Homo sapiens: one gene and its partner. The protein of the gene in region 2 binds, or shares a complex with, the protein of the main gene of each other region. Each region holds a gene or a part of one and is shown on either strand. Other genes may lie near its edges. A codon is read from its position in the direction of its gene.

Evidence for each region. Proteins that work in one complex are often made in the same cells at the same time.
Region 1: the proteins of BCKDHB (region 2) and BCKDHA are in contact, whole or in part, in a crystal structure (PDB 1V16), measured with the Homo sapiens proteins. Residues at the interface, in NP_000047.1 of Homo sapiens: Pro89, Thr90, Val92, Asp117, Arg118, Phe120, Asn121, Thr122, Pro123, Cys125, Gln127, Gly128, Ile129, Gly131, Phe132, Ile134, Gly135, Ile136, Val138, Thr139, Asp158, Gln159, Asn162, Glu163, Ala165, Tyr167, Arg168, Tyr169, Arg170, Ser171; in NP_000700.1 of Homo sapiens: Phe155, Leu185 (codon at 4,412), Gly186 (codon at 4,415), Lys187 (codon at 4,418), Arg189 (codon at 4,424), Gln190 (codon at 4,427), Gly196 (codon at 4,445), Cys197 (codon at 4,448), Lys198 (codon at 4,451), Phe202 (codon at 4,463), Val203 (codon at 4,466), Thr204 (codon at 4,469), Ser206 (codon at 4,475), Pro208 (codon at 4,481), Thr211 (codon at 4,490), Pro214 (codon at 4,499), Gln215 (codon at 4,502), Val217, Gly218, Ala219, Tyr221, Ala222, Arg225, Gly244, Asp245, Ala248, Asn251, Phe252, Thr255, Leu256.

Annotation. Positions count from the first base shown.
Region 1 is NC_000019.10:41,414,792-41,421,817, forward strand, and holds part of BCKDHA (2-oxoisovalerate dehydrogenase subunit alpha, mitochondrial isoform 1 precursor), read left to right. Parts: intron 1-4,343; coding exon 4,344-4,505; intron 4,506-7,026. UniProt on the Homo sapiens protein: Together with BCKDHB forms the heterotetrameric E1 subunit of the mitochondrial branched-chain alpha-ketoacid dehydrogenase (BCKD) complex.
Region 2 is NC_000006.12:80,340,652-80,346,777, reverse strand, and holds the end of BCKDHB (2-oxoisovalerate dehydrogenase subunit beta, mitochondrial isoform 1 precursor), read right to left. Parts: exon of another isoform or gene 4,138-6,126; intron 3,115-4,137; coding exon 2,974-3,114; 3' UTR 508-2,973; downstream 1-507. UniProt on the Homo sapiens protein: Together with BCKDHA forms the heterotetrameric E1 subunit of the mitochondrial branched-chain alpha-ketoacid dehydrogenase (BCKD) complex.

The sequences.
Region 1 (7,026 bases), on a different chromosome or scaffold from region 2:
TTGGTGTGGGGCCCTGCATGGGGACTACCCTCAGAGTGTCAGCGAGCACTGATAGGGCCAGGAAGGCATATCTTAACCCTTTGTCTTAGATGCTTGGGGCAAGTTGCTTAACTGCCCTGTGCCTCTGTTTCCTCATTCGTAAGGGGGATGGTAGCCCTTCCCAAGACAGCTGTTGAGGGCAGTCTTGGGGCAGTTGGCAAAGTGCCCTCAGCACAGAGTAAGCGCTCAGGGCCAGGGGTTGGTGTCATGATCGGGGACTCGCCCTGGGACAGCCCTTCAGCAGGGCCAGACCACGTGGCTGTCCAGAGCCCCCATGGACCAGCATGGCTTGCAGCCTGCTCCTGGACTGTCTACTGCTCACAGCTGGACCAGGCCCTTGGCCCCACATGCTCTAGGAGGGCAAACGCCCTGTGGTGTTTGTCTAAGGTCTAGTGTCATCCGTGCGGAAAAAGATTTCCAGACACCAGGCAGCAAGCTGGGCCCCCGCCAGCTGTGCTGAGCACTGCACCTGTTTTTGCTGAAGGGTTCTCTTGTGAGGGCACCAGGCAGGACCGAGCAAGCCTCATGGGAATCATGGGAGCCGCTGAGCTCTCCACATGGGAGAGCTGGCCGCCTCTGCAAGAATGACTGTCCAGCACTGAGGGTCAGCAGAAGTGTCTGGGCAGCTGCAAATGGGACTCATGCAGAGGCAGCATGGTGCAGGGTAAGGAGTTGAGTCACATCCACTCTAGACTTCACTTGGCAGGCCACTCACCTTGGTGACGCTGTCTGTCGTCTGTGAAGTGAGAAGAGTGGTGTTCATCATGATAGGTAGTGCCTCCCTGGGCTCTTGACACCAGAGTGCTGTTCTTTTTTTCTTCTCCTTTTTTTTTTTTGAGATGGAATCTCGCTCTGTTGCCCAGGCTGGAGTGCAGTGGCGCGATCTCGGCTCACTGCAAGCTCCACCTCCTGGGTTCACGCCATTCTCCTGCTTCAGCCTCCCGAGTAGCTGGGACTACAGGCGCCCACCACCATGCCTGGCTAATTTTTTGTATTTTTAGTAGAGGCGGGTTTCACCATGTTAGCCAGGATGGTCTTGATCTCCTGACCTTGCGATCCGCCCTCCTCCACCTCCTAAAGTGCTGGGATTACAGGCGTGAGCCACCATGCCTGGCCTTTTTTTTTTTTTTTGAGGTGGAGTCTCACTCTGTCGCCCAGGCTGGAGTACGGTGGCGCAGTCTTGGCTCATTGCAACTTCTGCCTTCCAGGTTCAGGTGATTCTCCTGCCTCAGACTCCGGAGTAGCTGGAATTAAAGGCATGCACCACCATGCCTGGCTAATTTTTGTATTTTTAGTAGAGATGGGGTTTCACCACGTTGGTCAGGCTGGTTTCAAACTCCTGACCTCAAGTGATTCGTTTGCCTTGGCCTCCCAAAGTGCTGGGGATTACAGGCATGAGCCACCGCGCCGGGCCAGCCAAGGTGCTGTTATATGTGCTCTTTAGCCTCGGAGACTGTCATTTCCCCTCACTGCACTGCAGAGCGAGGGCACACCGGGTGAGGTTAGGGCAGGCCCCAGTGGTGTTGCCTCATTGAGGCACCTCCCCCATCCATGTGAGGCAGGAGAGGCAAGCATTACCATCAACTCTAAAAGCCAGGTAAGAACCTGAGTCAACAAAGGTGAGGTCATGGGCCCAGGCCACATTCTCCTAAGGAGTGGAGCCGAGTCTTTTTATGGCAGTCTGACCCAGAGACAGCTCTCGCTGTTTCCCACCCTTGGCTGTCTTCCCAGGGCTATATGTGGAGTATCAGTGGTGGCACTGGCAGGGAGTGGCGCCCGGTGAAAAGGAGTGTTAAGAGGAAGCACGTGCCAGGTGTGGTGGCTCACGCCTGTAATCCCAGCACTTCGGGAGGCTGAGGCGGGAGGATTGCTTGAGCCCAGGAGTTTGATACCAGCCTGGGCAACATGGCGAGACCCCCATCTCTAAAAAATTAAAAAATTAGCCAGGCGTGGTGGTGCACACCTGTAGTCCCAGCTACTCAGGAAGCTGAGTGGGAGGATTGCTTGAGCCCAGAGGTTCAAGACTGCAGTGAGCTATGATTCCACCACCGAACTCCAGTTTGGGTGACAGAGTAAGATCCTGTCTCTGAGACCAACAAGAAAAGAGGTAGCATGTGTCAAGCAAGAGCAGCAGTTCCCACTGGACCTGGAGTTTCCTGGTGCAAATCAGCCTGTGAGTCTGTATTTTCTTTTTTCTTCAAGACGGGGTCTTACTCTGTCACCCAGGTTGAAGTGCAGTGGCATGATCTCGGCTCACTGCAACCTCTGCCTCTTAGGATCAAGTGATCCTCCCACCTCAGCCCCCTGAATAGCTGGGACCACAGGTGCACGCCACCACACCTGGCTAATTTTTTTTTTGATTTTTGGTAGAGACGGGGTTTCGCTGTGTTGCCCAGGCTGGTCTCAAACTCCTGAGCTCAAGCAGTCCACCTGCCTCACCCTTCCAAAGTGCTGGGATTACAGGCACGAGCCACTGAGCCTGACAAGTTTGTACTTTTAGCACGTTCCCCTGCCCCTGCCCAGTCCTTCTCACATGGGTGGACCTAGTACCACATTCTGAGAAAGCCTGATTCCAAGGTCCTGTATCAGTCCCTTGGACCTTCTTTGACCCTCTACAAGACCTTTCTTTCCCTCCTTAACCAGAGCAACTCCTGTTTCTATCTGTTACATATGCAGCACAGCCACATCTTGTGTGGATTTGTATTATGTCCATTCAAAAGCATGTGTCAGAAAATACCAGTAAACCTGTATTAAAGTTGGATGTTGAAGTAGTGCTAACCACCCTCAACTCTAACTAAAATATCAACAAGTGGGCTGGGCGTGGTGGCTCACACCTGTAATTGCAGCACTTTGGGAGGCTGAGGTGGGTGGATCACCTGAGGTCGGGAGTTTGAGACCAGCCTGACCAACATGGAGAAACCCCGTCTCTCCTGAAAATGCAAAAATTAGCTGGATGTGGTGGCACATGCCTGTAATCCCAGCTACTCAGGAGGCTGAGGCAGGAGAATCGCTTGAACCCAGGAGGCAGAGGTTGCAGTGAGCCAAGATTGCGCCATTGCATTCTGGGCAACAAGAGCAAAACTCCGTCTCAAAAAAAAAAAAAGAAAGAAAATTAGGTAGATCTAGTGGTGCACACCTGGAATCCCAGCTATCTGGGAGGCTGAGGCATAAGAATTGCTTGAACCTGGAAGGTGGAGGTTGCAGTGAGCTCAGATTGCGCCACTGCACTCCAGCCTGGGTGGCCAAGCCAGACTCTGTCTCAAAAAAAAAAAAAAAAAAAAAAAAAGGTAACTGCTGTGTGTAATGTGATCTCCATTAAATTTGTATCTAAAGAGCGGGTTCTGCGGTAAAGAAAGGATTTGGAAAGCACTGTACTAGAGAGCTCCCTCTGAATAATGTTCCCGGTCTGAGTGCTTGCAGCATTGATCCACAGCGCTGCCCCTAAAGTGTTGGTGTGAAGGTTGTCCCACTCTTCAGGCGGGGCAAAGAGCTTGTCTGAGGGCAATCACAAACCCCCTTCTGTCTTCTAACTTCGGAGGAAGGGCCCCCTTAACCTGGAGCGGTTCCCTTTGATGGGGAGGTGGGTGTTCACCAGAGGTTTTGTTTGAAGAAAAGGTTTTACTGCCATACATGGGTTAGAGTACTTCTGTAGTCCAGAAGTTGTAAATTAGTGGTCTATGCTGTTATTTGGTTCATAATGATGATTTTTTTTTTTTTTCGAGACAGGGTCTTGCTTTGTAGCCCAGATTGGAGTGCAGTGGCACGATCTCAGCTGCCTGCAGCCTTGAACTTCTGGGCTGAAGCAATCCTCTGCCTCAGCCTCCCAAGTAGCTGGAACCACAGGCACACATCACCATGCCTGGCTAATGTTTTGATTTTTTTTTTTTTTTGTAGAAGCGAGGCCTCACCATGTTGCTCAGGCTGGTCTCCAACTCCTGGGCTCAAGCGATCCTCCAACGTCAGCCTCTCAAAGTGCTGGGATTACAGGCATGAACCACCATGCCTGGCCATAGTAATGATTTATGGTTAGAATATTTCTTAAAGGTAATTGAATTAGTTGAAAGCACTTAAATACCAGACAATATCTCACTAAGAGAAAGAAAGAAAAAGGCTAGATTTCTGCTTTCTTTTGAAAAATCAGATTGGCCTTGCTGGGCAGAGTCAGTCAGTCTGAACATCAGTCTTCCTCTTAAAACAAGCCTGAGCTTTCCTGTCTGCCTGCCAGCATGCTGCAGGTCACCCACAGGGCTGAACTGTCCCCCTGTACTGCCCACTCGGCTAACCATTGCCTCCTCCCCTCCTAGGTGTGCTGATGTATCGGGACTACCCCCTGGAACTATTCATGGCCCAGTGCTATGGCAACATCAGTGACTTGGGCAAGGGGCGCCAGATGCCTGTCCACTACGGCTGCAAGGAACGCCACTTCGTCACTATCTCCTCTCCACTGGCCACGCAGATCCCTCAGGGTGAGGATGCATGCCCTGTACCTTGCACATGTGCAGACCAATGTCACACCCCTGTCCAGGCCTCAGCTCTTTTGCCTGCCTTCTGGGTGGAATTCTGGGTTGGTGACACCACTAGAGCCCTGGTCTGTGCTCCAGACTTCTTCTTCTTATTTTTTTCTTTTTTGAGACGGAGTCTTGCACTGTTGCCCAGGCTAGAGTGCAGTGGTGCTATCGCAGCTCACTGCAGCCTCCTTCTCCCAGCTTCAAGCAATTCTCCTGCCTCAGCCTCCCGATTAGCTGAGACTACAGGTGTGCACCACCACGCCCAGCTAATTTTTGTATTTTTAATAGAGACAGGGTTTCACCGTGTTGGCCAGGCTGGTCTCAAACTCCCGGCCTCAGGTGATCCACCCGCCTCAGCCTCTCAAAGTGCTGGGATTACAGGCGTTTAAGCCATTGTGCCCAGCCCACTTTTTTTTTTTTTTTTTTTTTTTTTTTTTTTTTGGTCTGAGACGGGGTTTCACTCTCGTCAGCCAGGTTGGAGTGCAATGGTGCAATCTCGGCTCACTGTAACCTCCACCTCCCAGGCTCAAGTGATTCTCCTGCCTTAGCCTCCTGAGTAGCTGGGATTATGGGCATATGCCATTGTGCTTGGCTAAATTTTTGTATTTTTTGTAGAGATAAGGTTTCACCATTTTGGCCAGGCTGGTCTTGAACCTGAGTTCAAGTGATCTGCCCACCTTGGCCTCTCAAAGTGCTGGGATTACAGATGTGAGCCACTGCACCTGGCCTGTGTTCCAGACTTTGAATGCACCTCTTGTCTGGGACCCTTCAGAAGAGGGCTCTGTTGCTGTCCCCACCCCATTCAGGGGCCTGAAGCCTGTGTGACCACACTCTGGATTTCCCAACCACATGCCTACTGCATTTGTCTGCTCACAAACATAGCCAACGTGTGCACCAGGTTCCACTGTGCCAATGCTTCACGTTCATCATCTAATAAGGACCCTCATTGTGGCCATGGGGACAGAGGTTATTATTTGCTCTTGTTCCTGTTTTCAAGAGCAGGATGCCCGTGTTTTGTGTGTGTGTGAGAGACAGCAAGTGAATGGGAAAAAAAAAAGTGCAGGAGCCTGGCCAACATGGCAAAGCCCTGTCCCTACTAAACATACAAAAATTAGCTTGGCATGGTGGTGCACACCTGTAATCCTAGCTACTCAGGAGGCTGAAGCAGGAGGATTGCTTGAACCTGGGAGGCAGAGTTTGCAGTGAGCTGAGATCGTGCCATTGCACTCTAGCCAAAGTGAGATCCTGTCTCAAAAAAAAAAAAAAGGAAATTGAAGTCAAAGAGGGAAGTCACTCGCTAACGGTCATGTGGCACAGAGGGAGAGGAGCAGGGACTCAAGTCATTGACTGTGTACCTCCAGAGCCTGGGTTCTTGGCCCTGACCTTTGTCTGCCTCAGTCCTCAGAGTCAAGTAAGCTTCCCCAAAGCTTACCGTAGGTGCCCTGAAGTCCCTTCCCTTATAAGAGCTTTTTTGGGAAGCAAACCCACTGGGTGCCAGGCCTGCACCCTCATAGTGTGGAGAACAAGGAATCGGAGCCCCTTCCTGTCCTCCGGGGCCTGTAGCCTGATCTAGGGTTGGTCTGGGCCCTGGCTTCTTTGCCCTAGGGCAGCTGAGATGCATGAGTTTGTGTCTCTCCAGGCCTCAGCACTGTGCCCAGCACAGCAGGAGGCTCCACACCCCTTAGCTCATAGTGTTCTTTTGTTGAGGAACAAGAAGCAGTTTGAGCCTCTTAGGTGGGAGGTGGGCAGGGAAGCTTTCTCAGAGGAGGGGGCATTTAGGGGGCATTTGAGCTAAAGGTAATAGGGTTTCCACAAGGCTGGGGCGTGGCCCTAACCTTCCCTCTGGGTCCCTGCTAAGTCACTTCAAATACACGAAGTTCCTGCCATGTGCCGGTGCCACTCCAAGTGCAGGGAACAAAAGCAACGCAAACCTCAGCCCTCCTGGTGCTGCCATTGTGGTGGGGGAGACGGACAGTAACAGAGATGGAGAGGGAACTCCTGGAGTATATGAGGGTGGGGGTCCTGTAGGGAGCAGCCAAGCCAGCCGGGTGTGGTGCACTGTAGGGGTGGCTGGGGTCCGTCACTGGAGTGACACTGAAGTATGGACCAGAGGATGTGAGGGGGGAGCTGTGTGGTGTCTTGAGGCAGGTGTGAGCCTGGCGTGTTTGAGGAGCTGGGAGGAGCCCAGAGGGGCAGGTGTGGAGTGAGCAGGTGTGGAGTGAGCGGGTGTAGGGTGAGCAGGTGTGGGGTGGTTGGAGGTAAAGTCCAGGAGGTGGTGGGTGGGGGTGCAGATGGTGCAGGTTGGGTGGGGCCTCAAGGCCTTTGCCTGTTGCAGGGATGTCGACTTTTACTCAAAGTGGGACAGGAGCCGTGGGTGGGGAGGAGTCTGCTCTTCCTTGGCCTGGCTCACCTCTTCATGGAATCCGCGGGCTGCCCTGTGGATAAGGGATTGGGCAGTGTGTGAAGGGCTAGTAAGGAG
Region 2 (6,126 bases):
ACAAGAGGACTGGACAATGTCCCCAATAAGGAGGTTTCCTCCTGTCAGAGTCATCTGTTGTTGCTACTGTTGTTTTTTCTTTTTATCCAAGTAATAATATAAAGAACATGGGCAAAAATTGCTTTGCAACATCACGACAAACACTACAGCTACAGCTAAAACTTGGCAGTTTTGTAATGGACAGGCTTAGGCTGTCCATCTCACGGAAGAGAGGCAGTAGGAAAAATTCTGCCTCACCACCCACCACACACTGGGGAGGTGAGTACATTCATTACGACACCTTGTTCAGGCAAGAGGGAAGAATGAGGGGAAACATTCTAGAAGTTCTGTCAACATATAACCATCCTGGTCATAAAGAACTGAACCAAATACAATAAAGTTGAGAAGTCACCATTTCTATAGTGAATACTGTACTTTAATTCAGATTTAATTAACCAATTCACAAGCTATTACTCTGAAACAAAAACTTTTTACTAAAGGAAAAAAAAAGAACACATACAACCCAAAGACAATTTGATTTTACTTTATTGAATACTATCACACACATAATATTTACAGATGTAATTAAACAGAATTTATAAGATTACCATGTGGAATATTTTTCAAAGTTAATCTGAAACTCTTAATGAAAATCATCAATACATGTGTGTTACAATACAATAATAGAATGTAGAACTTTTCAGCCAATATCGTGATGGTTCACTTAATAAAAACTCTCTTTTCAAAAAGAGGTAAGTCGGAGGAAATATAAAAAAAAATTCAGAAAAAATATTTCCATATCTAGTCATAATCTTCCAGCTTTTCTGTAAAATAAATTATAGACTTTCTCAATTGCATACATGACTATTTTCTTAAATACCATATTTAACTTTTAGCATATTGGAGTTGTTTTTCTTTTATCGTATTTTCAGCATAGGTTTAAATGTTTTTCTTATGTTTCAAAAGGAATACATAATCTAAATTTAAAACCACATCTGAATATTACTTTAAAAATAGCAACGAGGCACGTGGCCACCATCACTACCTTGGCTCTTTATTACGGCTGGTCCACGGAAGGGAACCACATGGACAACAAAAGTGAAGGAGTCCTCTAACCAGCTCTAAGTGTGATTTATTGTAGATGCCAGTTGCTTTCACAGACATTAAGAAGACATCAGAAATATAGCATCTACACCGGTATGTCTGAGAGAATACATGCATCTGTGGGCTAATGGTCCTAACTTCCATCTATAACAATATTCTTAGACTAGAACAGACAGAAAATGTAGGGATTATGGTAGCACAGTGACATATGAGGGAGAGTTAACTTCTCTATCCGCACAAATGTAAAGGCGTTTCACTCTGATTTTCAGTGAGCTAGATTTACTACCCATACACAAAAGTCAAGAATTCTAGCATTTCTGATCTTTAAAAAGTAGAGAATGTGCTATTATACAGAGTTGATTTTGCTTTTGAAAAAGCATAGTTCTTCAAAAGATATTACTATCATTTTTGGAAAAACTAGATATTAAAAGGTAAAGGATCTAATCATATCTACTCATTTTGAAACATTTCAAAATCAGTGTGTCAGTGCTAGTAACTTCTATATTAAAACTCTGAAAAGCTAACTTAATAATTTGTAATGTATTCATTTTGTTAGAATAACACCACTGAAGGGGCTGATAAGCATTACTTAGAAAATCATGATGAATAAATACCATTTATTATCCATTATGTAAAAAATATTCACTTGTTAAAAAAGCTTCTGGAAATGGTAGTGGTGCTGAGTTTTAGGGTTTGTTTGTTTGTTTTCAGGTAAAATTTTTCCTTACATACAATAAACAGATCTTTTGCTCAAGAAATCCATTTTTCAGATAATATACAGGCAAGTTTCAGAATGTCATGAATTATCATGTAAATAACTGGAATGTAAATTAACGGTGCTTGAGGGGCCATTTTTAAATACAGAAAGTACGCCTATTCATGAACAGTTTAAGTAGCTGAAAAAATATATACAAAAATAAAGGTTGAAGTTGAAACAATGGTATAAAGTACACTTGCAATCTAAACCATGGTAGAGAGCATCTTCATCTAGTGATTGACTATTCAATGTTAACATATGCATGCATCTATTTTTTAGAAATCACATATACAGGCCAGGCGCGGTGGCTCATGCCTGTAATTCCAGCACTTTGGGAGGCCAAGGCGGGTGGAACACAAGGTCAAGAGATCGAGACCATCCTGGCCAACATGGTGAAACCCCGTCTCTACTAAAAATATAAAAAATTAGCTGGGCATGTTGGTGCACACCTGTAGTCCCAGCTACTCAGGAGACTGAGGCAGGACAATCGCTTGAACCTGGGAGGCAGAGGTTGCCATGAGCCAAGATCGCACCACTGCACTCCAGCCTGGTGACAGAGTGAGACTCGGTCTCAAAAAAAAAAAAAAAATCACATATACATATGCTAGATATGTTTCTATTAAATGTAAATATAGCCAGGTGCAGTGGCTCATGCCTGTAATCCCAGCACTTTGGGAGGCTAAGGCAGGTGGATCACTTGAGGTCAGGAATTTGAAATCAGCTGAGCCAACATAGTGACACCCCACCTCCAATAAAAACACAAAAATTAGCTGGGCATGGTGGTGGGCGCCTGTAATCCCAACTACTCAGCAGGCTGAGGCAGGAGAATCGCTTGAACTCAGGGGTAGGGGGGAGGTTGCAGTGAGCTGAGATTGCACCACTGCAGTCTAGCCTGGGCGACAGAGTGAGACTCCATCTCAGAACAACAACAACAACAAAAATGTAAATATACTACTATAAATTTGAATTTTTTTTCTAAAGCACATTATTTTCTTCTGAAAGTTGCCTTTTACCAACTTTACCATCAAAGTTTGTTACCATCAAAACACTGATGATTGCTGTGTCTTGGTTAACAGTACGTTAATGTCAGGGGCACATAGTAGCTTTCTCAAGATGCATACCTACCTATATGGTCAATAGTTGATCATTTTTCGAAGGGCATCATAACACTTCCATTTGTCTGGGATGTAGAATGGTTCAAAAATGTGAGGAAATGGTGTGTCATAACCACATACTCTTGATATAGGAGCCTCTAGGTTCAAGAAACATTCCTCCTGCAGACAGAGTCAGGATGCTTAACTTCAAGAATTTTTTTTACTCACAGAAATGAAATAGTGCAACTTAAAATATTTCACTTACTAAAAATACAATTGCATCTAAGGACATTAAAAATATTTAAGTATACTGTAATATGAAAAAAGCAGGTAACAGCATGTTCGCATGATCCCAGTTTTATTATGTGTTTTCATGTATGCATATGCATTTTATACCTGTATATATATCTATTGTCTAAGCCAAACTGGGATAATATCAAATACGCTGTTCTACGAATATAAATGGAAAGAATTATAAAAATGCAACAAATGTTCACAGTAGTTAACTCTGCAGCATGAAACTGGCAATAATATATACCTTCTCATTTTCTGTTTTTCTCACATTTTATACAATGCACATGTATTACTTTCATAATAAATGTTTGTAATTCCTCCATGCCCCAGCCAGACTGAACTTCTATCAGTTACTTAACTGTGTTCTCATCTCTCTCATAGTCTAGCTTTTGCAGATAATGCTGGGTCTCTGGCCACTCACACCCCAAGTCCACAGCTCTTTGCCTGACTGATGTGTGTACAAATCTCAGGTTATTACCTGAGGAATCACTCCCGCTGGGAAGCCTTCCTTGACAGCACCTCCCCAGCCCTACAGGGCAGATGAGGAAGGGGCTTGTGCTCTGAGCTCCCAAAGCACCGAACTCGGCATAATCCATTGTAGTTGCCCAATTATCTGTCTTCCATGAGAGACTATGAGTCCCATGAGGCTAGAGATCTGATTTAAACATGAAAACCTCAACCACAGTAGAACACTGTAGAAAATTATTTTCAGGAGAAAAAAAATGTTACTCAAGTAAAATATTCAAATTTGAATTTATTTTGAAATAGGGTCTCACTCTCTCGCCCAGGCTGAAGTGCAGTGGTGCAAACACGGCTCACTGCAACCTCGATCTTCCAGACTCAAGCAATCCCACCTCAGACTACCAAGTAGCTGTGACCACTTGTGCACATCACCGACGCCTTCCTTTGTTCCTTTTCTTTTCGTTTTTTTCTTCCCTTTCCTTCCCTTCCTTCCCCTTTCTTCCCTTTCTTTTTTTTTTTTTTTTTTTTTTTCAGAAATGAGGTCTTCTTATGTTGCCCAGGCTGGTCTCAAACTCCTGGGCTCAAGTGATCCCCTAGCCTCAGCCTCCCAAACTGCTAGGATTACAGGTGTGAGTCCCCAAGCCCAGACTGAAAATAAAACGTTTAAAGGCTTAAAAAATTTAAAAGGGATATGTGATTAAACTATTCTAAGGAAAATAATATTACTTTTAACATTCACAGCTATTACTTAAAATAAAACCTTCATATTTATTCATGTGTTTACACATTGCCTTGCTTTATAAAGGATTTAAGGAGGTCCAGTTTTTTTTACATATTATACTATGTTCACATTTTAATTTGAGCAAAATTTTTACATGAAGGAATCATGATACCTCATGCTTTATCCCTACCCCCTGTGTGATTTCTTCCAGTGACAAGTGTATTGGGGCAGAAAGAAAATGCAAACAGCACAAATTAGCTCCAAAGAGAACCTACTGGACATTTACAGACCTCCCTTTGGCCCCAATAACTATCATGATTTACAATATCAAACACCAAATAAGTGTTGGTATTCCCTAGCAACTGGAAATCTCCACGAACAACTTTAGGACTTTTAATACACACGGTTTAAAGAGCCACCTAAGAGATTCCACTACTAATAAGCTGAAAAGAGATGACAGACTGGGTGGATTATTTCTTGTTTGCAACAAGTAATTTTAAAGGGCTTTAAATTGTCAATTTGGGATTAAGTCGGTTTTATTACTTTAGCTGACACTGGGCTGTTTTTCCATCTTCCCTGAATACTGAACTCTTCATAAACAAGCTATCCATGGAGAATTAAGGGCAAAATATTTTACTAAACGTCTTTGATTTTATACCTGTTATAAAATGACTGTTCTCTTGAACCAGTAACTTGGAAAGCTGGCCTACCACAAGAAGTTCTGTTGGTATTTGTTAAAATCACTCCTTTCAGCATAATGACTAACATCATCAAACTGGATTTTTATTTTTTCAAATAGCAATGCTCCTAACTCCTCAAGAATGCAAGCATCACTCTTTCCAGGAATACATCTATATGTCTGCACGAGCATAGAAAAACATCTGCTGTGAAGACACACTTGAACTGTAAACAGTGGTTACCCTTTGAGGCTGGGAATGACAAGGAGGTGAGAGAAGACTCCACGTTGTGCTTTATAATATATTGTTTTGGTTTTTCGAAAACAGTATTAATTTTGTAATAAATGATGCTGAAATAAAGGAAAACAGTAAAGTGAATAATGATTTTCTTATATGAATAAAAGTTCCTGTGTTATGTTACATAAATTTGTGATTTTACACATAGGGCTTCCTTAATTTGGAAACGATTACTGTAAATTATGTAGCATTAAGTTGTTATAATACGCTATTATAAGTATATAAAATATAAAAATCATGGAAGATAATTCAAGGATATATAAGAGAAGACTACGAATAGGATATCAGTCTTTTTAAGAATATATGCTAACTGACTGAAACAGCTTGAAATTCTCTTCACCAACAAAAGTATATTAAAGAGCCTTAAGTTATTTCTTCCATGAACTTCACTTTACACTTATTTTTAAGCAGTTGGAAATAAGACCCTTAGGTCAATTAAGCAGCTGTACTTACTTCTCACTGAATTGGTTCACATATAAATAATTTATGTGTGAGTATGTTTCTCTGCACTACCACCAAAACAGAACACCTTGTTCAGCCTCAGTGTTTTCATGCAGAAGCTGTATACATGTACGTACGTACGTATGTACACACACACACAAACACACACACACACACAGAAAAAAAATACCGAATCCCACTGGCAAGTTTGTAGATTAATGAAGACAAAGTATCTCTCCATTATAAATACATGACGCCATAACCATAGCAACCATGTGCCCTGAATTTTCATGACAATTC